5 separate regions of the Homo sapiens genome follow, and all the other regions are reported to be linked to region 4. Evidence: microRNA targets listed by miRTarBase, many of them from high-throughput screens and not tested one by one. Region 4 holds a microRNA gene; each other region holds the end of a gene's coding sequence.

Evidence for each region. The annotated mature microRNA hsa-miR-5683 reads UACAGAUGCAGAUUCUCUGACUUC and lies in region 4 at 2,309-2,332, opposite strand. An mRNA with a match to its seed (bases 2 to 7 or 8) in the 3' UTR can be bound and repressed. Matches are read on the target gene's strand: a 7mer-m8 pairs with bases 2 to 8, a 7mer-A1 pairs with bases 2 to 7 and ends in A, and an 8mer does both.
Region 1: miRTarBase lists TCEA1 as a target of hsa-miR-5683. Seed matches in the 3' UTR shown: 8mer at 2,152-2,159.
Region 2: the mRNA of LY6K is a reported target of hsa-miR-5683. The part of its 3' UTR that is shown has no 7-base or 8-base seed match.
Region 3: the mRNA of GPR141 is a reported target of hsa-miR-5683. Seed matches in the 3' UTR shown: 7mer-m8 at 4,356-4,362 and 7mer-A1 at 3,444-3,450.
Region 5: the mRNA of TSPAN2 is a reported target of hsa-miR-5683. Seed matches in the 3' UTR shown: 8mer at 2,133-2,140 and 7mer-A1 at 3,729-3,735.

The regions. Positions count from the first base shown.
Region 1 is chr8:53,963,015-53,969,679 of GRCh38, reverse strand. It overlaps TCEA1 (transcription elongation factor A1), which reads left to right. Exons shown (of 10, transcript NM_006756.4): 10 at 1,568-3,124. The coding sequence ends at 1,576. It overlaps LYPLA1-TCEA1 (LYPLA1-TCEA1 readthrough), which reads left to right. Exons shown (of 21, transcript NM_001425842.1): 21 at 1,568-3,124. The coding sequence ends at 1,576. Among named protein-coding and RNA genes, the nearest start is that of TCEA1, 56 kb to the left of the region's middle.
Region 2 is chr8:142,701,957-142,708,621 of GRCh38, forward strand. It overlaps LY6K (lymphocyte antigen 6 family member K), which reads left to right. Exons shown (of 3, transcript NM_017527.4): 3 at 1,135-3,171. The coding sequence ends at 1,415. It overlaps LNCOC1 (lncRNA associated with ovarian cancer 1), which reads right to left. Exons shown (of 3, transcript NR_038925.1): 2 at 6,359-6,462; 3 at 296-5,623. Among named protein-coding and RNA genes, the nearest start is that of LY6K, 5.2 kb to the left of the region's middle.
Region 3 is chr7:37,739,563-37,746,227 of GRCh38, reverse strand. It overlaps GPR141 (G protein-coupled receptor 141), which reads right to left. Exons shown (of 3, transcript NM_001381946.1): 3 at 2,393-5,848. The coding sequence starts at 5,834. The coding sequence ends at 4,917. Among named protein-coding and RNA genes, the nearest start is that of GPR141, 59 kb to the right of the region's middle.
Region 4 is chr6:6,166,675-6,171,674 of GRCh38, reverse strand. It overlaps MIR5683 (microRNA 5683), which reads right to left and starts at 2,341; the gene lies at 2,266-2,341. F13A1 (coagulation factor XIII A chain) reads left to right here. Exons shown (of 15, transcript NM_000129.4): 13 at 4,057-4,217. It overlaps MIR7853 (microRNA 7853), which reads left to right and starts at 2,240; the gene lies at 2,240-2,371. RefSeq lists an enhancer at 2,025-2,690.
Region 5 is chr1:115,045,372-115,052,036 of GRCh38, reverse strand. It overlaps TSPAN2 (tetraspanin 2), which reads left to right. Exons shown (of 8, transcript NM_005725.6): 8 at 1,482-4,026. The coding sequence ends at 1,547. Among named protein-coding and RNA genes, the nearest start is that of TSHB, 19 kb to the right of the region's middle. RefSeq lists an enhancer at 4,830-5,366.

The sequences.
Region 1 (6,665 bases), not on the chromosome of region 4:
TGCCACTTCCCATTACTGAACTATATTGTTCTTATGTATTAAATGTAAATAGTACCTACATTTCGGATTGTGATGAAGAGTAGAGATAATATATTTAGTGTGCCTGATAATTGTTGGTGTTCTAAAAATGCTGGCTATTTTTATTAGTTTTTCTGAAGTTTGTACAAGATTCTTTTTTTTTTCATTTATACTTACATAGACTTTTCAGTTTAATGCTCATTTTGAATTATTCACTTAGCTTAAAGCACTTTCTGAAAATCAGAAATGAACTAGAAGCCATTTGGGCCAGAGTCCCAAACCATGTCGAAGATATCCATTTGGCTTCTTCAACTCCACTTTAAGGGGTTGGGGCCAGTACCTATTTTGTTTTATTTATTCATTAATTTTTTTGAGATAGATCCTCACTGTGTTGCCCAGGCTGGAGTGCAGTGGCGCTATCTCAGCTCACTGCAACCTTCGCCTCCCAGGTTCAAGCGATTCTCCTGCCTCAGCCTCCCAAGTAGCTGGGATTACAGGAATGTGCCACCATGCCCAGCTAATTTTTGTATTTTTAGTAGAGATGGCGTTTCACCATGTTGGCCAGGCTGCTCTTGAACTCCTGACCTCAGGTTATCTGCCTGCCTTGGCCTCCGAAAGTGCTGGGATTACAGGCGTGAGCCACCGTGGCCGGCCCAGTACCCTTATTACGTACAAAGATTTAGTTCTGAGCTGGAAAGATTACTGCTACTGAAAGTGTCTTCATGGTTTGAAACAGTATTTCCTACCCATCTCAGGTTGCAGAAGTTGTCATTGGTCTAGGAGAGGGACATTCACCTTCTTTTTCAATCGTGTTGAGAAAATTTGGCCTGTTCTCTTGGATTTGTTTTGCATGATGGATCTTTTTTGTTGTTGTTGTTGTTTGAGATGGAGTCTTGTTCTGTGGCCCCGGGTTCAAGAGATTCCCCTGTCTCAGCCTTCCGAGTACCTGGGACCACCATGCCTGGCTAATTTTTTGTATTTTAGTAGAGACGGGGTTTCACCACGTTGGCCAGGATGGTCTTGATCTCCTGACCTCATGATCTGCCCATCTCGGCCTCCCAAAGTGCTGAGATTACAGGTGTGAGCCACCGTGCCCAGCTGATGGATCATTTTTATTATGGTGATGAGGTGTACAGTGCAGTTTGCTTTGAATACATGCACTTTGTGACACAAGTTTTGACATAGTACTTAATTGAATTTAAGAAAGTTCAATTTTAGGATAGAAAGCTGATGCCTAGAGTGGCATATTTTAGAAGTTCAATTTTGGAATTGTTATTTTTTTTTTTTTAACCTTAAAAACATTATAAAGAGGTATTTAATAAAAATGCTGAAATTGTTTTATACAAGTTCTTTAGTTGTATGTTCCTAGTAGTTCTAAGTTGGGAAAGTCAGGCACTTAAGATAGGTGATTATTATGTGTGAAAAATACAGCATCTTTTTCAAAAATGCATCTTTTTTAAAAGCAATATCAGGTGTATGCTGTATTAAATGGGGAATGTACCTTATTGGTATTTAAAGGTCTTACAAAATATTTTTTCTTTTTTGACAGTTCTGTTGAGTTGGAAGAATTGGCAAAATATCTGGACCATTAAGAAAACGGATTTTGTAACTAGCTTTAAACTAGGCCAAGCAACTAGTTTTCCTGCAAATCAAATTTTTAAAGCAACTTGGGTTAGACTTTGTTTTTGACCTAACATCCCTTCCTTAAATGCCTTCTGTAGTTTCAGATCAGTAGGGAGACCATATAATAATTTTATGGTACCTGTTTCAAAACATATTTTTTCTGTTTTTATAAGTAAGTTGATATTAATTAAACTCTTGGCAATATTTCTTCTTTCTTAAAGGAAAATATACCTTAACTTTTTTTCTTTTACACTGTGAAACATACACAGTAGAAATTCTGTTACTCTCTGTTATTAATACATAAATGAAAATACATTTTTTTCCATATTGGCATGTAGCTACAAATATTAAAGGAGGAGAAAAGGTAATATAATTTTAGGTTTACCAAATATGGTGTGTATTCAAATAATACTTGACCAGCTTATCTAAAATGTACATAATTTTGAGGTAGCTTATGAATTTGATTTTAATTATTATGTTCACAAGCTTGGAATATTAGATATTATTTTGCATCTGTAACTAACCGTGATCATCATTTCTTGTAATTTCTTGTACATGTATATTACTTGTTCTTAATAGATTTTTGGAAACAAGACTTTATTGAGATCAGTTTGGTTTTCCTGTTAATTTACCTGTTTGACTTTATAATGTGTTTTAGTTTTGCAGAAGAACACTGTTGTAGTTTAGAAGGCTTTTCATAAATCCCCTCATAGGCAAAGATGAAAACTTCCCACTATTTTTTTCCCCTCTTAGGAAGACATACTGGAAAGAAAATGTTTAGCATCTTAGTGTAGTATAGCTATTGTAAACAGTTCATGACTAGATTTTGATTCGGAAATCTATACTGACCAAGGATTAATCTTAAGGATTGTATAATTCATTAAAGCTGTGGTCTTTCCATGTGGAGACTGATAGAAAATAATTTTGTCCCAAGTCTTATTTGCTGACTTTTTCTGTCATGAGTGAGATTGTTGAACAAACTGAATATATGGGCTATAGCAAGTAGCTTTACAGTACAGATCTTACAATTAAGTTTTGCTTTTGTTAAAGTGTGTACCATTTTTTCTGTTTGGAGTAAGACAAAAATTGTTTTGACATAGGTTCCCTAGGGTACACTTGCTCTAGCATACTTTAAAGGCCACTGTTGCAAAGTCTACATTTTATGCTGAATCTGCATTCTGTCAGGCACCCGTAGAAAGACCTCAGTACATGCTTTGCACTCTCCTTTGCTCCCTTTTTCCAATTTCTTATTGCATATCATTTTGTTGTAATACAGAAAGCAGCATTTTTAAATGTCCGTGTTAAGAATTGGCCCACTGGTACCAACTCACCTCTATTTTGTCAGTTCATAGTTGAAGATTTTGTTTTATTTCAAAAACAAAGTACATTTTTGAAATAATGTTTCAGAATAAAATAATCTCACTTTTAAGTGATCCATTTTAAAATTTGTAATTCAATAAAGTTTTTTTTGTTGTTAAACATATATCACATTTTGTCATTTTATTTAGACAATGAAGCTTGCTTTACCTTTTGTTTAACCACACACCTGCTGTCCCCTCAACTACTAAGGTATTTCTAAAGTACAGTTTTAATTAAGTGAAGCCTGGTCTTCAGTAAAAACTAGTATTCAGCAGCATTACAGAGCATGTTTTCTTTCTTATCTTTTCCTGGACCTCTGGCGATGGATGGAATGGCAGGTTCTGAGTAAATACGTGAGTGCATCCCATGTGTACACTTAATTTAATGTGAGAGACCAAATAGTGAGTCTTGCTATTGGAAAATACTAGACTTTATTTATTTATTTTTTTATTTTTTTGAGATGGAGTCTTGTTCTGTCACCCAGGCTGGAGTGCAATGGTGCAATCTCGGCTCACTGCAACCTATGCCTCCCAGGTTCAAGCGATTTTCCTGCCTCAGCCTCCCAAGTAGCTAGGATTACAGGCGCCCGCCACCATGCCCAGCTAATTTTTGTATTTTTTAGTAGAGATGGCATTTCACCATGTTGGTCAGGCTGGTCTCGAACTCCTGACCTCAGCTGATCCACCCACCTCGGCCTCCCAAAGTGCTGGGATTATAGGCATGAGCCACCGTGCCCGGCCCAATACTAGACATTTGTAAAGTAATCAGAAGTAAATATTAAGGGTAGTATTTTATGATATTTACTTTGAGGGCAAAGTAACTTTGTTAAATGAACATGCAAAGGAATTAGACAAATATACTAGCAGATAATGAAGAACCATCCTGGGGAAAGCAGAAAATGATAATCTTGGTTTTCTAGCTTACCTGGATGATGACGAGCATTGGTTTATAAATTTTGCTAAGCTGTGGCAAAAATTCAGAAATATTTATATTCACCCAATCACTTAAACCTATATGTAATCTTACAAATGGCAAATATTTTAAGTATTAAGAAGACAGCAAAAGAAATAACAGGCTGTGCTTTGAATTATTATAGCTACATAGTCGTTGTCCTTGTGGGTCAAATTGTAATTTGTGGATTTGAATTGACTTTATTTCTTTTTTCTTTATTTCTTTTTTTTTCTTTTTTTGGAGACAGGGTCTCACTCATTCACCCTGACTGGAGTGCAGTGGCACAATCTGCTCACTGCAACCTCCACCTCCTGGGCTCAAGTGATCTTCCCACCTCAGCTTCCCGAGTAGCTGGGATTATAGGTGCACGCCAGCACACCCAGCTATTTTTGTGCTTTTATTAGAGATGGGCCATGTTGCCCAGGCTGGTCTTGAACTCCTGGGCTAATGCAGTTTGCCTGCGTCAGCCTCCCAAAGTGCTGGGATTACAGACTTGAGCCACTGTGCCCAGCCATTTCTCAAAATAAAAACTACAGTTAGAGTTGTGATTTAGAGAGTTTCACTCAACAGTTGTTCCCAGGCTGGGCTTGGTGGCTCACACCTGTAATCCCAGCACTTTGGGAGGCTGAGGCAGGAGGATTGCTTCAGCCCAGGAGTTCGAGACCAACCTGGGGAACAAAGCAAGACCCTGTTTCTACAAAAAATAAAAAAACTAGCTAGGCATGGTGGTGCATACCTGTGGTCTCTGCTATTCAGGGGGCTGAGGCAGGAGGATCCTTTGAGCTCAGAAGATTGAGGCTGTAGTGAGCTGTGTTTGCACCACTGTACAACACCCTGGGCAACAGAATGAGACCCTATCTTAAGAAAACAAAAACAAAAAAACAAACCAGACCAGTGAGGTGGCTCATGCCTGTAATCCCAGCACTTTGGGAGGCCAAGGCAAGAGGATTGCTTGAGCTCAGGAGTTTGAAACCAGCCTGGGCAACAGAGCGAGACCCTGTCTCTATATAAAATTTTTAAAAAACAAAAAATTGTTTTCTATCTCCCCTTTATTTAGTTGTATTTAGTTGTAGAAAATTAATGATTCAAAAGGAATTGTATATCCCACTGGGAAACCCGATGGGGATAATCACTGAATTACTAGTGAAAGCCACATATGAGGCCAGGCACGGTGCCTCACTCCTGTAATCCCAACACTTTGGGAGGCCGAGGTAGGTGGATCACCTGAGGTCAGGAGTTTGAGACCAGCCTGACCAACATAGTGAAACCCTGTCTCTACTAAAAATACAAAATTAGCTGGGCATGGTGGCACATGCCTGTAATCCCAGCTACTTGGGAGGCTGAGGCAGGAGAATTGCTTGAACCTGGGAGGTGGAGGTTGCAGTGAGCCCAGATCGTGCCATTGCACTCCAGCCTGGGCAACAAGAGCAAAACTCTGTCTCAATAAAAAGAAAAAAAAAAGCCACATATGAAAAACAAAGGACCAATGTTAAGGATACTACTTCACAGGAAATAGGACAGAGTTACTGACAAATTCCTAGGAAGTAATGGAAGAATTATGTTGAACAATGTTTAAGTAAGTTGAAGTCAATAAAAAGTAATAGTGAAATTGAGTGGAAAAAACAGCTTATAATCATGGCTATATTCGATAATCAACAGCTATAACTTAGTAGAGGTGGAGTTAAGTTCTTGTGGGAAATGTGTTCACTGCTGTCTCTAGCATCCAGAAGAATGCCTGTCACATAGGTGCTCATGAAATAGTTTTTCTTGGATATGTCTTTATCAATGTGTTACATGATGTTCTTGGCTGTTCAAGAGCTAAGATATAAAGAAAGAAAGAATGTTCCATGGGTCGAGGACTTGCAGAGGTAGAGTGGATAATTAATGGTTGGTCATGTTTTAGACTCCAACTTTAAAATAAGGAATGTAAGGAGTTAGAGTGTTGGGAGATCCCTTTTGGTGCTTTATTTCTGCAAAGTGATGCAACAGTTTCAGTGTACTCTTGGTACTTGTTTATCCAGCTGGAGGATGGAAATTGAAAGCACAGGGAGCTGTCTCAGGTGACTTACCTTGTTCTGATTCCTCTCCCTGGATGCTATATAAAGATAGCTAATTTTTATTTTTCCCCTTAATGGCCATGATTCCAAAGAGACACATTTCATATGTGATATCCCATACAGTCTGGTTAAATTGGTCCAAGTGTTTTTATAATTGGGTGACTGAACTACTTTGAAGTAAACGTTATTTGTGTGATAATGCCAATGTGAAAGTATAGCAGGTATTAAAAAAGCAAAAACTGAGAGCACTGGAGTTTGGACTGTGATAGGTATAGCTTCTGTCTCAGCATTAGTGAACTCATGAATGAACTCAGCATTAGTTCCCAAATGCTTTCCTAATTTATTTAGGGGCAGCTTCGCCCCTTCTCCTCTCTACATGACTCCGGCAGGTCTCATTCACAGTGTCCCCCCTACCCCATGCCCGTCCTTGAGATTCCCATATGAACAGTGACAGCTAAGCCACCTTGAGCTGCGTTTGGGGCTCCCTGCAGCTTTTTGCCTACTACATGCAGAGATCCTTTGTGTATGATGAAGCTGAGGGGAGTTGAGATGGAGAGAGTCCTGATAATATCGGACATCTGGACCCAGCCATGTGGAAGCTGGAACTACTGTAGACTTCCTGCTTATGAGGAGAAATCATTTTCCTTTGTGCTTAAG
Region 2 (6,665 bases), not on the chromosome of region 4:
GCGCCACCACACTGGCTAATTTTTTATTTTTAGTAGAGGTGGGGTTTCACCATGTTGGTCAGGCTGGTCTCGAACTCCTGACCTCAGGTGACCCACCCGCCCTCGGCCCCCCAAAGTGCTGGGATTACAAGCGTAAGCCACCGCGCCCTGCCTTTTTTTCCCTTTAAAATGTGAAGAGCAAAGTCCTCAGAGGCCAGAGAGAGGTGTAGGAACTGTGCTAGTGTAAGGCAGTGCCTGCTACAGTGGGTCCAGATGAAATACTGGGAGGTAGGAAGAAAATCTGGATTTCATATCATCCATTTTTAAATGAAAAATTAAGCTTTAATAGTGTTAAATGCGCCACAGAGAACAGTGTCTATGTCACTCTTACAAGAGATGCACAAAACCAAGGTGTACAGCCTTCAAGTGTGTTCTCAAAGGAGGGTGCATGCCTTAAAAATTGTGGAGACCACTGCTCTGTCATCTGTGATTCCCCTGAAAACCTCTGGGTACATGAAGCCCTCCCCAAGGGGAATCTGGACACCCAGCACATTCTGCCCACAGGGAGATCTTCAGGGCTCGTGAATTCTGATTCCGCCCAGCAGTCACTCTCCAGCCCTTCGGTATCCACGAAGTTGGTGGGGTGCTGAGGTGATGCTTCAGACTCAGTGTGGCCCACATCGACTTTATAACTTAATATGGCAAAATGATTTGTACAGTGATGTATAAGATGAAGTGTGGTCATGAGACAAGACCCCCAGCTCAGAGTCGAGCCAGGCCCACCAAGAGGCCAGCTCCACACCCTGGGTGATGGCCAGAATGGCTGGGAGTCATGTGTCTGTCTGTGGTCACAAAGGCCTGAGCCAACCCTGTGTTTGAGAAGTTGAGACCTGTTTGTTCCCAAACAGCAACCCCTAGACCCGCATTCCCAGTGCATATGGACAGGCCATACCACGCAGAAGCCAGCCCTTCCCTGAAGCAGCATTCAACACACAGGCCTGGCCCTCGTCCTCCCGACTCCCCCTTGGTGCCCCAGTTGACTGTGCACCTTTGAGCAGGGCCGCCAGGGGTGAGGCTTTGACCCAGACAGAAGGGCCTCGGTGTCAGGCATTGGAATTGCGTGATTGCCTTCTCTCGGTCTTTATTTCCTATTAGAAATATTTCCACGTTTTTTCATGGTTGCGAAGCAGTGCTCCGCTGGTTGTGCAGCGATGGAGAGACCCAAGCCAGAGGAGAAGCGGTTTCTCCTGGAAGAGCCCATGCCCTTCTTTTACCTCAAGTGTTGTAAAATTCGCTACTGCAATTTAGAGGGGCCACCTATCAACTCATCAGTGTTCAAAGAATATGCTGGGAGCATGGGTGAGAGCTGTGGTGGGCTGTGGCTGGCCATCCTCCTGCTGCTGGCCTCCATTGCAGCCGGCCTCAGCCTGTCTTGAGCCACGGGACTGCCACAGACTGAGCCTTCCGGAGCATGGACTCGCTCCAGACCGTTGTCACCTGTTGCATTAAACTTGTTTTCTGTTGATTACCTCTTGGTTTGACTTCCCAGGGTCTTGGGATGGGAGAGTGGGGATCAGGTGCAGTTGGCTCTTAACCCTCAAGGGTTCTTTAACTCACATTCAGAGGAAGTCCAGATCTCCTGAGTAGTGATTTTGGTGACAAGTTTTTCTCTTTGAAATCAAACCTTGTAACTCATTTATTGCTGATGGCCACTCTTTTCCTTGACTCCCCTCTGCCTCTGAGGGCTTCAGTATTGATGGGGAGGGAGGCCTAAGTACCACTCATGGAGAGTATGTGCTGAGATGCTTCCGACCTTTCAGGTGACGCAGGAACACTGGGGGAGTCTGAATGATTGGGGTGAAGACATCCCTGGAGTGAAGGACTCCTCAGCATGGGGGGCAGTGGGGCACACGTTAGGGCTGCCCCCATTCCAGTGGTGGAGGCGCTGTGGATGGCTGCTTTTCCTCAACCTTTCCTACCAGATTCCAGGAGGCAGAAGATAACTAATTGTGTTGAAGAAACTTAGACTTCACCCACCAGCTGGCACAGGTGCACAGATTCATAAATTCCCACACGTGTGTGTTCAACATCTGAAACTTAGGCCAAGTAGAGAGCATCAGGGTAAATGGCGTTCATTTCTCTGTTAAGATGCAGCCATCCATGGGGAGCTGAGAAATCAGACTCAAAGTTCCACCAAAAACAAATACAAGGGGACTTCAAAAGTTCACGAAAAAATTGAATTAAAAGATAAAAATTAAAAAATGTTTTATTTCTCAGCATGAGCTCCATCAAGGTCGAGACGCTTCTGCAAGTAATGGTACCAGCCATTCAGTTCATCCCTAAAGAATTGGGCACCCTGGGAATTTAACCATGCCACTTCAGTCTTTGTGACGTTATTAACTGAAGAAAAGTGGGTGCCCTTTAAAGATTTTTTAAAATTATAAAACAGAAGTAACCAAATCAGGCCTGGAAGGTGTATGCCTAGTGATTTCCCATTGAAACTCTCACAAAACTGGCCTTGTTTGATGAGAGGAATGAGCAGGAGCATTGTCATGGTGGAGAAGGGCTCTCTGGTGAAGCTTTCCGGGGTGACGATTTCCTGGGTGTTTTCCTGCTAAATCGTTGGCTGACTTTCTCTATACACTCTCATAATAAGATGTTACTGTTCTTTGGCCCTCCAGAAAGTCAATAAGCAAGATGCCTTGAGCATTCACAAAACGGTTGCCACGACCTTTGCCCTTGACATGTCTGCTTTTACTCTGATGGGACCACGCCCACCTCTAGGTAGTCATTGCTTTGCTTGTGCTTTGCCTTCAGGAGTGTACTGGTTAAGCCACATTTCATCTCCGGCTATAATTATATGAAGAAATGCTTCAGGATCTTGATTCCACTTGTTTAAAATGGCCATAGAACGCTTTTCTCTTATCTGCAGCTGAGCTGGGAGAAAGTTTTGGCACCCACCGAGTGGACAGTTTACTCAACTTTAATTTCAGTCAGAATTGTGTAAGCTGAACACCTTGGGATACCTACAGCGTTGGCTATTGTTTCTGCTGCTATTAATCAGTCCTCTTAAATTAGGGCACAAACAAGATGAATTGTTTCCTCACAGACTGATGTGGCTGGCCTGCTGCTGTGGACTTCCTCTCCAACATCATCTCTTCTCTTCTTCCAATGAGTTATCCACTTACTTAAATTGCTGATTTCTTTGAGGCATTGTCCCTATAAACTTTCAATAAATCATCAATGATTTCACCATGTTTCCAGCCAAGCTTCACCATCAATTGCATGTTTGTTCTGGTTTCAATTTTAGCAGAATTCATGTGTCTGATAGGAGCTCTGTTCAAACTGTTGTCTTATACTTCTTAGGGCCTCAAACTAGATCCTGTTCGGACGTGTTTTCACAAGTTAGTACAAGTTTATTTTGTTGCAAAACAATTTGAAATTCATGCATTCTTTTTCCCAATATGCATTTTCCATGAACATTCTAAAGATCACTCATCCTTCCTCCCCATGTTGTCTATTCAATGTCAGGGAGGATGTGACCCCACCCACTGCTCACCTTTGTCTCCCTTCTGTCCCCACCATCCTGGCCAGCCACTGCCTGGTCTAATACCAGAGGCTGCTGGGTGGGGAAGCCTGGGGAACCTTCCAGATAGAGTTTCTTCGCTATTCCTGAGGCATGGGGAAAAGGCTCATCTCAGTCACATCTGAACACTTCGAACCTGAGGCCAAAGTCCATTCTAGGGGCAGTGGGCAAGGAGGGTCCCAGCAACTCAGGACCAGATAGGACCACCAGCACCTGTCAGGCTCTGCCTGTGTGTCCATCTTTTTGCCCGTCACAGGCTGGTGTTCACATCCTGCCATTCACACCAGCACCCAGAAACAGTAGCCCCAGCTGCTTCCAATTCGCAGCCCTGGGCTTGAGTTTGGGGAGCATTACTTTCATTAAGGCAGGCAAAAGTGGGAACTTCATTCAGAAAGAGCAAGTGAGGTAGGAGGTCAGCCACATGAGAGAGTTTCCATGGCAGCCTTCCATTAGAGTCTCTTCAAATGAAGGATGTAATCTGTGATGTAAAATCATAGCAAGTCAAGAAATGTGAATACGGAAAAATTCGAAATTGGGAACTGCTGGGTCTCTGGTAACACTAGGAGCACTCCCAATTACTTGAGTAAGGGAGATAGAAAATTATTGCAGGGTTAGGAATTAGAATGGATCAAGGAGTTTGCTGTCTCCAGTGTGATAGATGCTCTTTCTAGAAAAGTCACCATGGATGGAAGACAGAACGGAGGGTAGTGTCTAGAAAAGAACAAGGTTCAACACAGATGCTCCATTATGAATGTAAAAGCTCAAGTATTGTTGACCAAAGGTTAAGAGTCAGTCTAGAGTGAGGGATTGGAGAAGCAGGAGATGGTGGCCCAGCTGGTCAGGGAAGGTCCTTACACAGGCAGAATAGTCTAGGGGACAGATCCAAGGCCGAGACACTGACAAGGAGAACAGACACTTCTATCAACATGGAAGAGCAATAGGCAAGAATACAGAGAAAGATCATGTATAGGAAGAGGCCAGGAAGTTGAAAGAATTATCCCCAGCAGTCACATTTTCTCTGTGAAACAGAATACGGTGGTGTCTGCTCAGAGAATGAGGGTACAAATAAGGTTGGACTTTGAGTGCCATGATGGAAGCTTAGGACTATCCCCAAAGGTAAGAGAGAAGGGATATCTTAGGGGACATAACATAGGATAGCCCAGCATTGTGGAGGTCATGGCTAAGACAGGGCATTAAACATTTGCAGAGACCTGCAAGAGTTCGGTAGTGGATTTTCCCCAGCAGCAGCCCATGTTTATGAGGGGGAAAGGCAGATAACAAAAGTACATCTGGGTGTGAGCTAGTTCAGAAGGTCACGATGGAAAGAGAGCAGTTGAGTGATGAACTATGGGAACTTCACTGAATGGAGAAGTCAAAGTAAGGTTAGAAATATCAGTTTTGAAGCAGTACCAAGGCCAGAGGCTATAGATGGCACAGAAACACAGAGCAGATATTGGCAATCCCATGATTAAGAGAGTAGGAAAGAAGGAGATTACAACCACTAAAAATAACCAGAACTTAGTACACAATAAATGAAGGCTCAAAACTAATGGGGAAAGAATGGATTATTGAATAAATGATATTGCTAAAATAGGCTACTGTGTTACTACTAGATCAGGTGTGTGAGTAATGGAAATCCCCACATCATAATGACTTAAACAACACAAGAATGTGTATTTCTTGCTCTTGTAAATGAAGTGAGCAAGTAAGCAGCCCAGGGCTGTGGGCCACTGCTGGAAGGACCCCTTTTCACGTGCCACCACAGCTCGGAGCACACACGGGGAAAGGGGAATGGATGGGTTCCATAAGACCAGCATTGTTTTCAGAATTATAAATTCTCCAAAATATATATGCATGTATATATCATCACCTATGTGTAGGCTTTAAAAACAAAGAAAATTGAAAATTTGAGGTTCCACTTTGAGTCCGGAAAGCAGTCTTCTAAGAATAAGTATGTCAGGGTTTCCAAGAGCTGCTGGTAGCCTGATGGCTGGACTCAGAGGATCACATGAAGACACACTGGAAAGTATCTTGAACATGGGTTTCATGTCTTGATCTCTGAAAACAGAAAACGACCCTCCTGTAATACACATGAAGTAATTCATAAATTTCCAAACAGCTAGACTTTCTGAAAGCTCTGCTTGGTCAAACAAACATGTCCAGGTCTCTGAAATGCCTTTCTATCTCAAGCACTAAAAAACTATTACTGACTAAATTCTTTTATGGTCAAACACAAAACTGATACTATAAAACAGAAACAGCACAAGAAAGGAAATTAGAAGCCATCATAATTGTGAACAAAAGATAAATAAAATATTGGCTAATCAAATCCAAGTGTATGAAAATACTAATACATTATGATAAGTACAATTTATCCCAGAAATGCGAGAACAATAAAAATCTTAGGAAAAGATACCACTCACCATAGCAAGAGAATACGCAATAATAACCAAATGATAATCAACGTTCAGTTATAACATTTTAAAAATCCTGGATACCTAAGAATAGAAGGCAATTTCAATATTTTGAAAAAAGTTACTTACCAGAAACCTCAAGCAAACACCATACTTAGTGGTGAAGCATTAGAAGTGTTCTATCTAAGTGCAAAAACATGATAAGCCTATACATTGTTACCACTGCAATAAAACATTAAAGTGGAGAATTTAGTCATGTAGTATAAGAAAAATAAAGAGTATAGAAACTTGTTCCCAACAATCTGCCCCATTAGATAGCCACCTATAACAGAAGACCTTAGACTAATTAATTTGTAAAGAACAGAAATTTATTGCTCACAGTTCTGGCGGTGGAGAAGTCAAAGATCAAGATGCCAACAGATTTGATGTCTGGTGAAGGCCTGTTCCTCATAGATGGCACCTTCTATGTGTCTCTGGAAAGACCTAAAGAGGCAAAGACATTCCCTTCAGTCTCTTTCATAAAGGCATGAATCACATTCATGAGGGGTGCCTCCCAAAGGGATGCATCTCTTTTTTTTTTTTTTTTTTTTGACATGAAGTCTCGCTCTTGTCACCCAGGCTGGAGTGCAGTGGCGAGATCTTGGCCCACTGCAGCCTCCTCCTCCTCCTGGGTTCAAGCTATTCTC
Region 3 (6,665 bases), not on the chromosome of region 4:
CAACCATCTTAGCCGTTCTTAAGTGTACAGGTCAGTAGTGTGTCCCACTGTTAAGCACAATGCTACGAAAATAATGGAATTCTGAGAGGCAAAGGACAACTCAGAGAATGGGGTACCCAGCTGGGCTGTGGTAAGAAGTGTGCTGTGTTATACAGAATTGAACATCATTGGAGAGGGGGCCTAGATGTCTTTCCAGACCCTCCTGAGGGTGCCAGAGGCTGGTGTAGACTTTGGCAAGTGTCTACTCCTGACATGTAAGATGATGCTTTCCTGAAAACAGAAGGGAAACTCTTCAGACCCTTCTCTAAATTCCAAGGGATTCTTTTCTTACTTGACTTAAGGATGAGCTGGAGATCTTTATCCAAAATCTCTGATCAGGTTGCCAGTGGTTACATCTTTGTAACCACACCCTGTCCTCCATGAGATCTATGGCCCAGATCAGCAACAAAGGGCAGAAATAATTCATTGCTAATGACATAAACTATTAGGACAAACTGCAAATAAAATAAACCATGCTCGCCAGCACTTTCTTACCTCCTGTTCAAAACAGTCTTTGTTTGCTGCCTCCATTGCCCTGTCTTCCAAGAGCAGTCCTGTTTGCTCAGAACTCCTGAGCAAGACTCACACAAGCCCCTCCTGCTCTCAGCTAGCCGTTCTCAGACCTGGGTCTCATTTCCCCAGCAGCTCCTGCTGGGTCTTCAGATTCCCCTGGTTTCCAATACCCATGGGTGTCCCTTGGCATGTTGCAATCTCTGGGCATTATCCCCACAGTTCTGCCATCCCTGTGCCCCTTTACCATGGAGCTCTCAGTACCAACTGTCTACAGAATGCTGTAGTTGGCCCCTATAACAAGAAGAGCTTCCTTGTTCCTACCAGTACCAATAGGTGTGAGAGTCTTTGGCCTATGTCTGTCTCATAGAGGAAAGTGGGCAAAATCTATCCAATCAAAGCTATGACAGCATCCCAAATTCTAACTTCACACCAAAAGCCAATGACTGAGAATGGATTGGCCCAATACCCTCCTTCAGAAAAACTGATTCTTAACCCAACAATCGAGTTTTCATGGCAGCTTCATTGAGGAGGATTTGGGGAGGCAAGAGGGATTTATTAACACCTCTTGAATCACTTTACACAAAGTTCATTTCACCTACAATTTCTCCTTAATTTAAATGAAGTTGAGGAGGAAGGCAGGGGACTCAATGATCCTTTCACAGGAAAATTAAGGAATAAACAAGAGCCAAATAGTGTCCCTTTTAATGGGTGCCTGAAGAGATCTTTCTCCCTGGGCCTCAAAAATTATTATGTCTGGGTTAAAAATCTGGTAGATATTGATCAAGAGCCAATCTGAGAGTGGTGAGGCTCAGAAAAAGTGTATTTTTCTTATTAAAAAAGAAAATACACATGTATATTTTCTTCACATTTTTCTAAAAGTTGCATTTAATTGCTGTAGAAACAAAAGAAGTAATTTAGAATTGAATGAAGATGAGGTAAGTATTTCAAAAACACTGAAATATTTTTCCTGTTTATAATGTTAAAATTTATAAATTTCCCTCTTATTTTGTCCCTTTGTGGTAATTCAGTGGTTCTCAGCTTTCTCAGACCCAATACCTTGCTTTTTATCACAAATATTTGGTAATACTTTTACCATTCTAAAAGGAAACTTACAGATAATTTTACCATTTCAAAATGAAATGTATATGCTTTCTACACTAATAATGTAAACATACACATTATTTTTACGTATAATGTTCTCACTGTAATATAAATGAGTAATGAAAAGAAAAGTTATGGATAACAGTATATAATTCAGTGTGTAAATGCTCAGGCATAATCACATAAAGAGACAAAATGAGTGAGTCTGATGCTGACACCTGTATGTAATATCTCCTGAATACAATAGCTACAAATATTGCTTACAGGTATGTTGTGTCATATTTTAATGTCATAAATGGTATTGTTACTTATAATGTCATTTCCAAAGTACTGAACAACTCTTGGTAAAGCTCAGAGGAAACCAAAGTAAAATCTTTCTTCAATCCATGATAGCTGCATTTCCAGAAAATTCAGAGAATTAAAGCTATACAAAAAAAAATACTACGTGTTTACGAAAACTGGGTAAAACCTGATAGCTGCTCTGATTGTTATGAGTATATGTTTCACTTCATTAATATCTAATAGAGTATTCAAATAGAGAGCAAGACCTGATACTTCTTTATTGTACAGACAATTATGTGCAAGGCAAGATGTCTATTCCTTGGCTCCCACCACCAAATGCTAATACTAGTGCTCTCTTATAATGGTGATATCCAAAAATGGCCCTAGAGGCCAATGTCACTCCCAATGTCACATGAGGTTCATTTCTGTATTGATTCAAGACAAAGAACAGGAAAACTAAAATTTTTCTATTTATTCCATAAATACTGATGAAAAAGATATTTTATATTATGAAATATTGCATTTCTATCTTTTGAGAACATTTCTAATAAGCCTGTTATTATAATATATGAAAATAACATAGTGTTATGTTAACATTATAACAGATTAATACAGAGATTAATTCTTTTGAATTGCCTGACCTCAACATATCTAAAATCTGGAAAAGAGTATGACATAATCTACAAGGTAATGAAATTCTCATGAATACTTTTAATTTAAATATTTTTCTAAATTTTTTTTACATATTTATAGGTATTATAAATTTTCTTAAAACTATCAGGGGTCTTAGTAACGGTCTTACAAATTTTATGGTTCAAAATGAGAAAGAAAAAATGTAAAAAATAAATGGGAAAAAAGGCAAGAAAGAAAAGAAATATTACTTGTTTAAAAGGATATTTAAAAGAATATATAAAACAGAAAATATATGGAAACAAGTCATGTTTGAACTATGTTGCTACTTCTGCTTCCTCAGAATTAATTTCTGTGGCTCAGTAATTTTAGTGGTCACAGAAATTCACAGAGGTATTTCTTATTCATCTGAGGAATTTGTGGATCCACAGTGATAATAAATTATGAAAAACTTTTAAATCCCGAAGATATACCTTGATGAAAAAAAAAGTTCCCTTAATTCATTCTGTTATTCTATTCATGTTACTAATCACTTCAGGTTTTCTGCAGCATTAAATATGAAACTGGATCAGATCCTGGGAAAATTTTAAGATAAAACACTGAAGACACTGGAAGTATGGGCAGGAGCAAAAAAAACCCAAAAAGCAAAAACCCACAAGCCTATGTATCAACCTAGCCAGTAACAGAAGTTCTTGAAATAAAATCAGTTTAACGTGCCACATGCCACAAGTTATTAATACAATTTTACAAAAAGTAATTCCGAATTTGGAAAGAAAATCCATATTATTTTATTATTATTACTTTAAATTTTATTTTAAGTTCAGGGGTACATGTGCAGGTTTGTTACATAGGTAAACATGTGTCATGGGAGTTTGTTGTACAGATTATTTCATCCCGAGTATTAAGCCTAGTTCCCATTAGTTATTTTTCCTATATTTTAAAGGATTATGATTTTATTGCTTTGGGGGACATTTATTTATCCACTCTTCAAATATTCAGAAAACCTTCTTCATGCAACCTAATCTCACAGAGTCTAAATTAATGGTTTTTCTATATACTTCTCAAAAGTCCTCTTTTAAAAACACAGTTTTCATTTATTTAAAAATATATAATTTTAACCTGGAAACCATCATTCTCAGCAAACTAACACAGGAACAGAAAACCAAACACCGCATGTTCTCACTTAGAAGTGGGAGTTGAACAATGAAAACACATGGACACAGGGAGGGGAACATCACACAATGGGGCCTGTCCAGGGGTGGGGGGCTAGGGGAGGGAGAGCATTAGGAGAAATACCTAATGTAGATGGGTTGACAGGTGCCGCAAACCACCATGGCACGTGTATACCTATGTAACAAACCTGCACATTCTGCACATGTACCCCAGAACTTAAGGTATAATTTAAATATATATATATATAATTTTAACGGCGGAAGGGAGCTCTAAAGATTTCAGTATAACTTTCTGTCCCCCCTAAAAATCTTAATTAACTGTGGCCCAGGACATCTAGAAATTCTCTCAAAAAACAGAAGAGAAAAAAATTTTAATCACTTCCCTTGGGAACTCATTTTAATGCCTACCAGCACATTAGTCAGGGATAGTCTCTAAATTACAGTTTCACCATTATGTAGATATGTCCAGTAAGCTTTTAAATGATTTTTGGAGCAACAGTGCAATTGGTGATAATTGAGGAAGTTGATCCCCAAGTCCTTAAACGACCTTTCACAGGACAAATCTAGAAACCCTTGTTATAACAGGAGGCCACACGTTCTTTTTCTCTTGATTTCTAGACAGATGACTTCCTACCAGAGTTATGATACCCTAGAAAAATTTTTAACTATTCTCTCCCCTTATCAGTTTTTATCAGGGCATGAGATGAATGGGACATCTAACCTGGTTAGCGAAGGAGAGTTTGTGTCTTTGGAGCTGGGTGGTGGCCAGAATTTACTTACCTAAGGTGAAGTGGGATGAAAAGAACTAAAGGTCTGAGTTCAGTCCAAAACCTAAGAGACCATGCTTCAAACAGAGGAACTTAGAATGAGCTAATGAAACTCTAAAACTCTTAAAACCTATGTTGCTTTCATGGGCCACACAGACATTCTGTACTGGAAAATAATGTAATATTGCAACTCCAGGTGGATTCAACAACACTGGTCTTTGTACGGCCATCACTCAGAGATGGGAGGGATCCCATAAGGACTACAATGAGGGCTCTTGCATTTTATAGTCCTTTTGTTTTGGGTACATCAAGGCATGGTTTTGATCAAGTAATGAAATACCATTCTTACCTCCCCTATACCCATTTTTATTCCCAATATAAAGGAAGCAAATATGAATACTGTAGTTTGTGGCTAACGGCACAAAACACAATTCCATAAGCCAATTATCTTTTGCTTAAACCAATGGCTTCCCCCAAAGACAAAGAGAAGCAAATCATAGCAGCTAATTGCTGTTACACTCAAGAAGATTTCGTTATAAAATGCAACCTTGCTGTTACAGGCATTGGAATGCGTCACAACATTCAAGTAATAGATCCTAAAGAACTGGTAGGGAAGGAAACAAACAAGGATGACCCCTATAAAAAATAGGTTTTTCAGCTGAGCCCAGAACTCCTGGTGGGATAGTAAAGAGTGGCGTAGCTTCTGCACCATCAACATAATGATGAAGACCTGGAAGACCAACAGAATCACAGCAACGGCTATGACAAAAATGACTATCATATAGTTGATGATTTTCACATATGTGTAAGCAAGCTCTTTGTGAAATTTAAAACAGTGCTCCTCATTGTATTCCTCATGGATTCCATACCGGGAGACAACCAGGGGTACCACAATGACAATCACCAGCGTCCACATGCCAGCACTGGCAGCCACAGCATGCAGTTTTCTGTAGAATTCCACTTTGTCTTTGCACTTGAAGAAGATGAGGTATCTGGTGACCAGGATCACCACATAGAATAGGAACGTGAGGTACATGTGGATGTGCAGCATGGCACTCACAAATTTGCAGAAGGGCAGCCCAAACATCCAAGTCTTCTTGATGAGGTAGGTCAAGCGAAATGGCACTGTCAGCAGAAAAACGCTGTGGACCACCACCAAGTTAATGACCGCCATGGTGGTCACTGACCGGGTGTTCATTTTCACCAGGAGGAAAAGAATGGAAATGACACCCACCAGCCCGCCAATAAGCACTATGAAGTAGAGGCTGATTAAGTGGGGTGTCACTATAGGATCGCAAGAGGAATTCCTGGAGGTATTGTGGCCAGGCATACTTGGGAAGTCACCTGGAGGAGAAAAAGCACCAGAGTAACTGACAAGCTTTCAGAGCTTTGTTCCTATCTCTTTTACAGCACTGACAATGTGACTTTGCCATTTATGTGCTTATATGATATAAACTTTACATGCTTTAAGAATGAAGATTATTTCCTATGAATGTTTGCATACCCTAGACCTAAAACACAGTAAGCCATTGATTCTTACTCTTTAATAGGAATAAAAATCGAATCTGAATCTTCAAGTTGCCCCCCAGAGAGATGTATGTAGATAAGACAATTTACATAAAACTTCAGGAGGATTGCAGACCATCTGGAGCTAGTACTTGGATACTAGTACTACAGTAACCCTTTAAAAAGTTGTGAGATGGATAGAAAGATCGATGGATTCATGAAGTATACAATTTTTTTTTCTTACGGGCATGATTATAATTCTCTAATTCTTTCTTACTTATTAGCAAATGACCCAAGAATATTCATACTTAATTCATTTAGAATACTGATTAATTTGACCAAAAATACCATCTAAGTCAAGAGAGCAGCAAGCAATAGGAAGGTTTACCTGAATTTCTCATTACAGTTATTTTATCTTCTAGCAGTGAGTGAGGCCTTGCTAAGCCTTCCCATGGGCCCCACTGAAATATAGCATGTCTTCCAACTCTCTCATCTCCTACTCTCAAAGGCCTTGCAAATTCGTGACAGAGCCACTGGCATTTATCCCCTGGACTCCTGAAAGATCCGCTCCACAATTACTCTCAGTCCTTTCTAATTCATTCTCCATATTCTTATTCATTGCTTGCTGTAAAAGATTTAGTAATCTTTTAATTTC
Region 4 (5,000 bases):
ATGTGGCATAATCTAACTTAGGTTTTGAAAAGACCACTGGCTGCTGTGTTGAGAAGAGACTAAAGAGGAAGTAGGGCGGAAGGTTAGAGACTGGTAGGATGCTTCTGCAATCACTCCACTGAAAGGGGTTGATAGCAGTGATGGAAGCAGCGAGAACCAGTCCGATCTGGGCATGTGCTGAAGGTGGAGCCCGCCTGATTGGCTGAGAGACTGGATATGTGGTGTGAGAGAAGGAAGGTATGGAGGAAGCCAAATGAGTGATGAATGTGAAATGTGTGCCACATGGTAGAATCTTAGTAAATGGTAACTTCCAACATGTTTACATTTGGGGAAACTGAAGCTCGAGAGATGAGTCGATGTGTTCAAGCCCCCACACAGCAATGAGAGGCAAAGCAGATAATAGAGTAGACAGATAATAGCAGTGACAGTGAGCCAGTTCAGGGTAAACTTGGCCCCAAGTGGGCCAGGTCCCTTCCTTGTGCTCCCATTACCTGGAGTCTAGCACAGATCCTTAGACAAAGAACCAAATGCCAGCCCTTTTCCCACCTCACAAGTGTCCTGTCTCATAATCTCCTTCCCCTTCCCTCTTTAATCCAATTAAAGAATGAGCTTGTATGGGTGAGTAGAATGATATCATTCTCTCAGTCATCGACCTAGGGACAGCTGACCAAACCTATGCCTGAGTCCATAGGAACACATCTCCCATTCGCTTGGCCAGCCCCAGGTTGTCCTGAATAACTTGAAGGGAACTGGAGACTCTTTGTTCCTTTGCCCTGCAGGCAGGTGGTATTAACTGTGACCAATAAATTGTATATTGAAATATAAATTAAATTGCAGTGTATTGCAAAAAGCCACATAACTTCAGGCCTTGATCAAGCATTCTTAGATGCCTCTGCTGCAAAGAAAGCTTTCCAAGTAGAATGGGAGGCATACTTTCCAGATTGATGATTAAAGGGAATGTGTGTGCTGGAATCAGCTTGGGAGATCTGAATAACTTAAACCTCTCCGTACCTTCAAAGGTGCTATCATTTCCACTTGGCTATATTTAGTTTTCTTTGCTTTTTGGAAAAGAGATGAGGCAGCTCCAGTCTGTGTCTCCCTTGGCTTTCCCCAGACACCGTAAATGATATTGGCAGCATCCCAGCCCTACCGCTCATAGAGCGAAAACCTATTCCTCCTTCTCCTGCCACGTTTAATAAACTTTATCTAGAACAATTTCTTGTGCAGTGGCAAAACACAGCACTTACATAACATACTATTTCAGAAGCACTGTTCTCTTGGGCTCTGAAGCACAGCCTGGTTTCTTTAGTGCTATGATTTAGGGAGTGTTCTACCTCAGAGAAGAAAGGGGTCCTGATACTGAGATTATAAAGGTAGCAAGAGCCTCTGTAAAGAAATCATATCCCATTAGCCAAAAGAAATCCAGTGGTCAAACATAGTCCTCTAGAAATAGTCAGAAGAAGTCATTTTATTATTGTTATTACTGGAAACAGCTAGAGGCAAAAGGCATCTTCTTCGAGGCCTTCCACCTTGCCACTTCATCCATTCTATCTAGAGACACGATAAACTGACCATTTGTGCTCATCTGAGGCTGTAACCAATAGAGGGCCAGAACCTCACTCATCTAAACAATTAATTGCAAGGGGAGCCATGGAGGAAGCAGGGTCCAGGCTTAGGTCCAAAGACAGCAATACGAGAGCGGGTCATTCCAAAAGGCAGGACCTGGGGGCCAAGGTCAAGGCAAGGTCATAGCTTTAAAGAGTCAGCTCTAAATGGAATAGCTCTGCCCCAGGAATCAAGCCAACAAAGCTAGCTCTTTAGCGCTTGCCCAAAATAGGCCAATACATTCTAATAATCCACCTGCCCTATGCGGGGTTTCTTGGTTTCAGCACCATTGACATTATGGGCTGGATACTTTGTTGTGGGACTATCCTGTGCATTGTAGGATGTTTAACTGCATTTTTGGCCCCTATCCACCAGATTCCAGTAGTAACCCACCCTCCACCCCAGTTGTGACAATCAAAAAGTTCTCCAGACATTGCCAAATGTCCCCTGGGGATAACATTGCCTCCTATTGACAACTACTAGTCTAGGATGACCAACCTTTCTAGTTTTCCAGGGATTGATGGGGTTCTCAGGATGCAGGCCTTTCAATTTAAAACCCAGGTAGTTCTCAGTCCACCCTAACTCTGCCCTAACTTACCCCTTCTGCTGTTAGAACCTCCTGTCTCTCAGAGTATCTCACACTTCAATAGGCATTGTCTGGGGTCTTATTCAAATGCAGATCCTGACTTCACTGGTGCAGTAAGAAGTCAGAGAATCTGCATCTGTAACAAGCTCCCAGGTGATGATGGTGCTGCTGGTGTGCAGACCGCAGGAGGAACAGCAAAGACCTGGACTGGAAAGCCATCCCTTCCACTGGAACCCAGGCTGTCTGCAGGGCTGATTCTACAGGGATGCCCCTGGTTGTTGGAGTGGCCCTTCTCAACCCTGGCTGCACATCAGAGTCAGCTGCAGAGCTGTTAAAAATACAGATGTCTAGGTCCTCCAAGGCTCTGATTTAATTGGCCTGGAATGAGAGCCAGCTTGGTAGGTCTTTAAGGGTCCCCAGGTGATTGTGATATAGAGCCATGACTGAGAACTCTTCAATCAGAAGTCCTGGAAGCAAGGCACAGCACTTACGCATCTGTAAAGAGACTTCCAAATAGAAGTGCTGCCCAAGACAGAGGCTTTCCCAGCCTCTTGGTCTTCAAGGTCCAGAGCAAGCTGCTGCAGATCCATCGCAGGTGTGAGAGTTCCTCCACAGATGATGGGCATGGCTCAATGCACCCACACCTTCGAGCCAGTGGGGAGTCAGGGGCCCTGCCCTCTGCTCTGGTGCATGCCCATCCACAGGCACCCCACCCTGCTGCAAAACTGCTGTTCAGTACAGCAGGCTAAAATGAATTACCCTCTGTGCTCAAACTGTTGGCCATGAAGCTGTTTCCTTCAATAACTTCCACAGGAAGGGGAAGTCTTTGGCAAAAGCCAGAAACTGAGAAGGAAAGCAGTAAAGACATTCAGTTCTGTGAAGGTTCATAGAGTCTGTTCTCTGTGGCTGGGGATGGAGGAATGAGTCACCCATTCACCTGCGGAGTCTGCCAGCTGTCGGCACATACAGGCATCTGGCTCCAACCAGGTAGCAGTGGGTGCACACCTGGGCTCAGCCTACAGAAAAACTGCCCATTGCTCTCTAGAATCCTGGACAGTGGGAAATGGGAGTTAGAGAGAAAGTGAGCCAGAGCCACAAGATAGAACTCACCATCCTCAGCCCAGATGGTAATTGGAGGGGAGCCAGGACCACTCTCCATCTTCCAAATGCCATTCTCATTGGCTTGTCCCCAGGACCTAGAAATCTGACATCAGTGACTGGTTTCCATTGAGAAAACAATTGTTTGGCACAGAGGTCTTCTAAATCACAAACAGAGGTTCGGAGATAGTTGAATGCCTTTGGTAGAAACTGGTTTCAACAGCTTCCTTCTCTTAAATAGAAAAATCATATCAGATTGGAGAGAAAATGTGGAATGCTACAGAGAAAATGTGTAGGTAGTTGACAATTTAGTCTGAGTGTGGCCCATGGCCTAGGTGAGACACTTCTTATTTGACAAGGGATCCTATGTGGAATGGGGGCCTTGGACTTCAGCACCCCACATGTTCCATTTTGGGATGATCCCGGCCCAAATCAAAGCCACCATTAAAACCCATTGGTCCTTCTTTGCCATGAAAATCACATCTTTTCCATGGCATTTCTTTTACAACAGCAAAAGAACTGTTTGGAAGGTTTGACACATTTTCTCCAGTGAGACTTCAATGAATATTAAATTTCCAGCACATTCTTTACCTAAGAAGCAGGACAGCTTATCCCCAATTGACTCTTTGTTCCACTTGCCCCTTACCTTTGCTGTGTTCCTGGTGGCTTCCAGGCTAATGTGGGAGGGGTAGGGAAACTTGGAGAAAAGTAAAGCAGACCCTGTCTCAAGTCTTGATGCCAGGCCTGTGTGTGTTTTCTCCTACTAGTCAAGAAAGAGGCGGTGCTGATCCAAGCCGGCGAGTACATGGGTCAGCTGCTGGAACAAGCGTCCCTGCACTTCTTTGTCACAGCTCGCATCAATGAGACCAGGGATGTTCTGGCCAAGCAAAAGTCCACCGTGCTAACCATCCCTGAGATCATCATCAAGGTCAGTCTTAGCGTCTCATCCTGGAACAGAGACAAAGGCACGCAGACTTAGTGTTCATGTGTGCATATGCGTGCTTGTATGTGTGTGTGTGTGTGAATGAATGTCCTGCTCAAAAAAAAAAAAAAAAAAAAATACCAGTGCTAGGATCCTCTTGTTCTTTGAAAGAAGTAAACTGCCCTATATATAGACACATACATATAACACTTTCCTCTCCTCTCCAGATTTAAATATATAGATGTGGCTGCAGATATAAATATAACCTGTGGGTATAAACACACTTGTGGAGGAAGATAAAGATGTGTAATGGCTACAGATACTTAGAACTTTCAGTGTCTCCAGAATAAAGTGGGTCAGGCATGCTATAAGAGGTAGATAAACTGCCTGCAACATTTTGGACAGTAATATTGTTTATGGAGGTATAATTGTGGATAGTAGATTGCACAGATCAAAATATACAGCTTGATGATGATTTTGTATGTGCGTGTGCCTTGCAACCACAAGCCAGATGAAGAAATGGAGGATTTCCAACACCCCTAGAAGGTTCCCTCTTGCCTTTTACAGCCAATAACCCCCTAGACTATCACCAAGATAGTAACTTTTCTGACTTTTATCACCATAGGTTTGTTTTGCCCATTTGACCAGTAGTTTTCATGATGCCTCTCCAGTGATCACCAGAAATCTCTGCCCAAATGGCTCAAGAGACTTGGCAGAGGAAGGCCGAGGGTTGATGAGAGTGGAAGATAAATGTGGGAGCCTCTGTGCTCCTACTTCTCAGGCCCACAG
Region 5 (6,665 bases), not on the chromosome of region 4:
CACCCCTGACTCGTGTCGGCAGTAGGCTGAGACTGAAGGAGTCTCACTGAAACCAGGATGGGTAGGGATTACATCCAACCTTATGGCAATGATAAAGGGGAAATGCCCATAGTGAGCCTATCTTGAGTCGGCACCCCCAGGTTTCTTCGTTAGTTCTTTTCTCTGTAAAGTGAGAGTTGCACAATGTAATCAGCTAACTAAAAGTGCATTGGGTGTCGCCCGTGCTACACACTGGTACTGAGTCCTGTCATCCAGAAGCTTGAAATCCTGTTCCTGGCCATGCCCTTACCTGCTTCTGCCCCTCCCTTTTCAAAACAACTGATCATTCATATCTTATTGAATTTAGCACTTACAGATCCTAGTCTGACTTAGGATGGAATTGAGGAGAGAACCAGAAAGTTATAGTACCCATTTTTTAAAATAAGCATTGACAGTAGTTTATGGAATGGTGCCCACAGATAGGGTTCCATGGGCTCTACAAAATTGTAGGGGAAATAATAGCGGACAAGAAGACTCTTTGGCATTCTTCTATTCAAACCATGGAAGTGGATATTGATTTCACTCAAGTATTTAACTTCTCAGAGAACTATCCAAAAGGTAAAAGTCAATAATACCATAGTATAAACCCTTTAGTTTATGTTTTGCTAAAACTATTGAATTAAACAGTGAAGCATCGTTTGCCCTTAAAAATGGACTGAGAATGAAGTGATGCTCCACTTTTTTTTTCTTTTTTTGTGAGACAGGGTCTCTGTCACCAGGGAGTGAAGTGGTGCAATCACAGCTCACTGCAGCCTCGACCTCCTGGGCTCAATAATCCTCCCGCCTCAGCTTGCCAAGCACCTGGGACTGCAGGGACACACCACCATGCTCAGCTAATTTTTGTATTTTTTGTAGTGACAGGGTTTCACCATGTTTCCCAGGCTGGTCTAGAACTCCTGAGCTCAAGCGATCCTCCCACCACAGCCTCCCAAAGTGCTGGGATTGCAGGCATGAGCCACTGCACCCAGCTGATACTCCATTTTTGGATGTATGGACACTGTTGTAAAAAATCAGAGCTTTTCCAGCAATAGAAAATTATTTAGACCACAAGCATATCTAAACAACAAGTGGTTATGGACACAGTTTTCAAAATAAACATATAAAAGAGATCTAGGATTAACCTGAAATATAAAATTCCAAAGCCAGTATTGTGTCTGTCTTTCACAGGTATTCAGAACGGTTCTATAATTCTGAAGCAGGGTAGGTTCTTTTAAAGCAGAGCCTTGTTACTTGTTAACAATAATAATACACATTTAAACAGTTAATCTAGAATTATTTACCCCATAGCCAACCTTAAGTAACATACTAAAATGTCATTTGTGACTGGTAATTATTGGTTATAATTATTTGTTAACTTGAGTTAGACACCCAGGAAGTCTGCTGAACTTTTTACCTATCAGTACCCGTTTCAAAGTCACTGATGAGTGTTTCTTCTGTTTCAGATCTTTGGCATGATATTCAGCATGGTCCTCTGCTGTGCGATACGAAACTCACGAGATGTGATATGAAGCTACTTCTACATGAAAATTGCAATCTAAAGCTTTCATACCAAATGTCACAGGAGCTGTCTCCCAGCTCATTTTTAACACTGAAATGACATTAGGATCTAAAATAATTTGCTGTCAATTGTACATTTGCATGAGTACGTATGTTTGGCTCATTACTGGTTTACCCCTTGAGTGAATGCCTGTTTATGATGACTGAGAGCATATTCATGTGTGATCTGCGTGTTTCTGGAATATGCTTTATACGTAATGAAATCTGTTTGCTGGGAATTCCTGATTCTTGTTATATAAGAAGAACAACCTATTTCGCTCCCAGAAAAAAAAGATCAAAGAGCTTTCAGAAACTTTGAGAACTTGGCTATTTAGAAAAAGTGATAATGGGTCAGTTTCTCAGACTGTAGCCATTGAAAATTAGATGCAGAGAATTCAGAGATTTCTTCTTAATGGAAGTAATAAGCTGTAAGAATTGAGAGATCACAATGGAGTGTTAAAACTGACTGTGTCTAAGTTGGGTGTAAGGGTTTCCTGGGTTTTTTTATATACATGCTCTCCCCAGAATACAGTAAACCACAGTTTTAGAACTAAACACATCTGTAAAACTAAATATAGCATGGAAAATCCAATTTGAATAAGTCATGCTTTCCTAGAATTTAAAAATAAAAAAGTCTTCCTCTGGAAAGAGAAGTCACACAGACAATCATGTGCCCTATAAAAGTGAGTGTTTATAGGACTAAAAAACTTTTAACAACTTTTTAAGGAAATATTTTTGTTCTTATACAAAAACATGTAAATATTGCTTTATTACTTTCATTTTCTGACCCTGCTGTAAACTACTGCAACCCTCACATCCTCAAAGGGACTTTTATGTCAAACTCTTCTGTTTCTCCAAATATAAGGAAAAAAGACTAAAGCAAGAGATCTGGCAGTTGAAAATTGTGGGAAAGAGAATTTGTATGGGCACTGTATCTATGAAATACCTCATAACTTACGTTTACATGTTTTCCTAACTTTTTGTATTTTTCTTGTATAGCCACCTAGAGAATTCTTCATAGATTAAGAACTACAGTTTTCACCACTTAACATAAGTAAAACAAAGTCCTTCATAATTTAACCATTAGCATCTTTGGCCAAACCAAAATAAAGAAAAGCATCTTCTCCTAGTTGTGTGTGGGCAACAGAAACAAGTTAAGGAAACAAAAATACTTATATATACACAGAACAAAAATAATGTTCTTTTTATGCAAATCCCCTGTGAAAATAAAATTTTCAATGTTTTTTTGGTCTTAACGCTTCATTTTAACTTAGTAAACCCAAATTTAGGATTTACATTGGCAAATTTTTCAGTGATTTTTAACGTGTTACATTTAGTAAACCATAGATTTTTTAAAAACTACATTTTGTAAGGCCACACATAAGTGAAAATACGGAAGGCTTTGGAAACCCCCAGATGAACTTCTATACATGTGAAAACACAAGTCTTTGAGTGTGCACTAAAAGTGTCACACTCCCAAAAAACTCACAAAACATTTTGCTAAAAAGATATGACTGCTTGAAATAGTCTCTCTCCCATGGAGAACCACATTTCTCTTTCTGCCATACTTGCTACTGCTACTGATTTTGGAGGAAATTTTTCTAGAAGAACAAAGGTCATATTTGAGGCAAGCTAAAAACTTAATTATACATGGCTACTTTACTGTGTCTGTAGCTAAAGAAAAATTATTTTACAAAAATTACTTCATGAAATATAGTTTGTACCCCAGTAGTTGAGAAATGTGACCTTTTAGGCAAAGAACAGGCAGTCCATCTCTCTTAGCTTTAGTTTATCTCTCTGCCTGAAGACAGGAAACAGGCCCAAGTGCATACTCGGGTTCTTTCCAACTCAGAATCATCTCTGATTCCACAAAAGTGAGTTTAGTTTCCTATCTGAATTAACAACTTTAAAGGAGACTATAATAGTTAAAAGTGGAAGAATAGAAATAAATAAATTTAAAATGAAATTAATTAAAGTAGAAGAGAAGGGTTCTGTTCCATGTACGATTAATGTGCCCCTTTTGGAGATAAGCTTTCCAAAATATGCGTATGAGTAAAATTAGAGAATTCCACCACTAAGCAACAATAGATTTTATATGTGTGTGTGGATATATATACACACACACACAGAAAGATGAATATATATATATATATATCTGTATAGACACACATATAATATATATAGATATATAATCCCTATATATCTTGAATCTACAAATATCTTTATATGTATATAATTTGAATATATACATGTATGTATATACAGATGTGTGTGTATATATATATATACATACACATATACATAAATTTTCAGCTATTTCTGTTCCCCTGAACTAATTTGAGATTAGACCCAAACATGCTTTTAAATGTCTCATGCCAAGGCACTGAATTAAGACTTCTTAATGTTGAAATATTTTAAGTGATTTCATATTAAATTTTCTATATACTGAAATTGCTTGTTTGATTTATCTTAAAGTCCTATTATATCTTTCTACAAACCTTCACGCAACTTATCTAAATGTCAAACTACCAATCAAATAATGTGATTAAAAAAAAACAGAGTGGTAACCCTTCTATAATTTGCTATTGGTAGTTGACTTAAAAGCAACACCCTAAGGACTCTTACTGCATATACAGTCATCTGTCAGTATTCATAGAAGAATGGTTCCAGGACCCCCTGTGGATACCAAAATCCACAGATGTCCAAGTCCCTTGTATAAAATTGTGTAGTATTTGCATGTAGCCTATGCATATCCTCTCATATACTTTATTTTTTTAATTTTTATTTTTTTATTGTTACATAATAGTTGTACATACTTTTGGGATATATGGGATATTTTGATATTAGCATACAATGTGTAATAACCACATCAGGGTAATTGGGATATCTATTACCTGAAACATTTATCATTTCTTTGTATTGGGAACATTCCAGATCTTCTAGGCCTTTTAAAACATATAATAAATTGTTGTTAACTATAGTCACCTTATTGTGCTACCAAATATTAGAACTTATTCATTTTATCTAACTGTATTTTTGTACCCAGTAATCAATCCCTCTTCATCCCTCCCTGCCTGCTACCCTTTCCAGCCTCTGGTAACCACCATTGTATTTACTACCTCCATGAGATCAATTTTTATAGCTCCCACATATGACTGAGAACATGATTCATCTTGATGATATTTGTCTTTCTGTGCCTGGCTTATATCACTTAATATCCTCCAATTCTATGATGTTGCTGCAATTGACAGGATTTTATTCATTATTCAGCCATTGTCATGGCTGAATAATATTTCATCGTGTATATATAGCACATTTTCTTTATCCATCTGTTGATGGACTCTTGGGTTAATTCTGTATCTTGGCTATTGTGAATAGTGCTGCAATAAATATGAACATGCAGACATCTCTTTGATATACTGATTTTCTTTCTTTTGGATATATACCCAGCAGTAGGATTGCTGAGTCATATGGTAGTTTTCTGAGGAACCTCCAAACTGTTTTGCATAGTGGCTGTTGATTGTTTCCTTTGTTGTGCAGAAACTTTTTAGCTTGATGTAATCCTATTTGTCAATTTTTACTTTGGTTGTCTGTGCTTTTGAGGTTTTACCCCAAAAATATTTGCCCACACCAGTTTCCTGAAGCATTTTCCCAGTGTTTTCTTCTAGTAGTTTCATAGTTTCAGGTCTTATATTTAAGTCTTTAATACATTTGAATTTTGTGTAGGGTGAGAAATAGGGGTCTGGTCTCATTCTTCTGCATGTAGATAACCAGTTTTCTCAGCACTATTTGTTGAAGAGACTGTTCTTTCCCCAGTGTAAGTTCTTGGTGCCTTTGTCAAAAGTGAGTTAGCTGTAAATACATGGATTTATTTCTGGGTTCTCTATTCTGTTCCATTGGTCTATGTGTTTGTTTTTATGCCAATACCATGCTGTTTTGGTTACTATAGTTTTGCGGTATACTTTGAAGGAAGGTAGTGTGATGCCTCCAGCTTTTATTCTTTTTGCCAACGATTGCTTTGACTATTCAGGAGTTTTTGTGTGTGTGTGGTTCCATGTGAATTTTAGCATTTTTTTTCTATTTTTGTGAAAAAATGTCATTGGTATTTTGATAAGGATTGCATTGAATCTGTGGAACACTTTGGGTAGTATGGTCATTTTAACAATATCAAGTCTTCCAACCCATGAACATGGAATATTTTTCCATTTTTTTCTGTCCTCTTCAATTTATTTCATTAACATTTCATAGCTTTCATTATAGAGACCTTTCACTTCTTTGGTTAAATTTATTCCTAAATTTTTTTGTAGTTATTGTAAATGGGATTGCTTTCTTGATTTCTTTTTCAAATTGTTCACTGCTGGCATATAAAAATACTACTGTTTTTTTATTTTGATTTTACATTCTGCAACTTTACTGAATTCATTTATCAGTTCTAACAATTTTTTTGGTGGAATCTTTAGGTTTTTCTAAATATAAAACATGTCTTCTGCAAACAAGGATGATTTGACTTCTTTCTTTCCAATTTGGATGCCCTTTTTTTCTCTCATTGAATTGCTCTGGATTGAACTTCCAGTTCTACGTTGAATAGAAGTGGTGAAAGTGGGCATTGTTGTCTTTTTCCACATCTTTTAATTTTTGGCCAGGTGCAGTGGCTAACGCTAGTAATCCCAGCACTTCGGGAGGCCGAGGCAGGTGGACCACTAGGTCAGGAGTTTGAGACCACCCTGGCCAACATGGTGAAACCCTGTCTCTACTAAAAATACAAAAATTCTCTGGACATGGTGGCACATGCCTGTAATCCTAGCTACTTGGGAGGTTGAGGCACGAGAATTGCTTGAGCCTGGGAGGCAGAGGTTGCAGTGAGCCGAGATCACACCATTGCACTCCAGCTTAGGCGACAGAGTGAGACCCTGTCTCAAAGGAAAAAAAAAAAAGAAAGGCTTTTAATTTTTTATTTTTCCGTGTTCAATATGTGATGTTAGGTGTGGGTTTATCTTAAATGGCTTTTAATGTTTTGAGTTATGTTCCTTCTATCACCAGTTTGTTGAGAGTTTTTATCATGAAGGATACTGAATTTTATCAAACGCCTT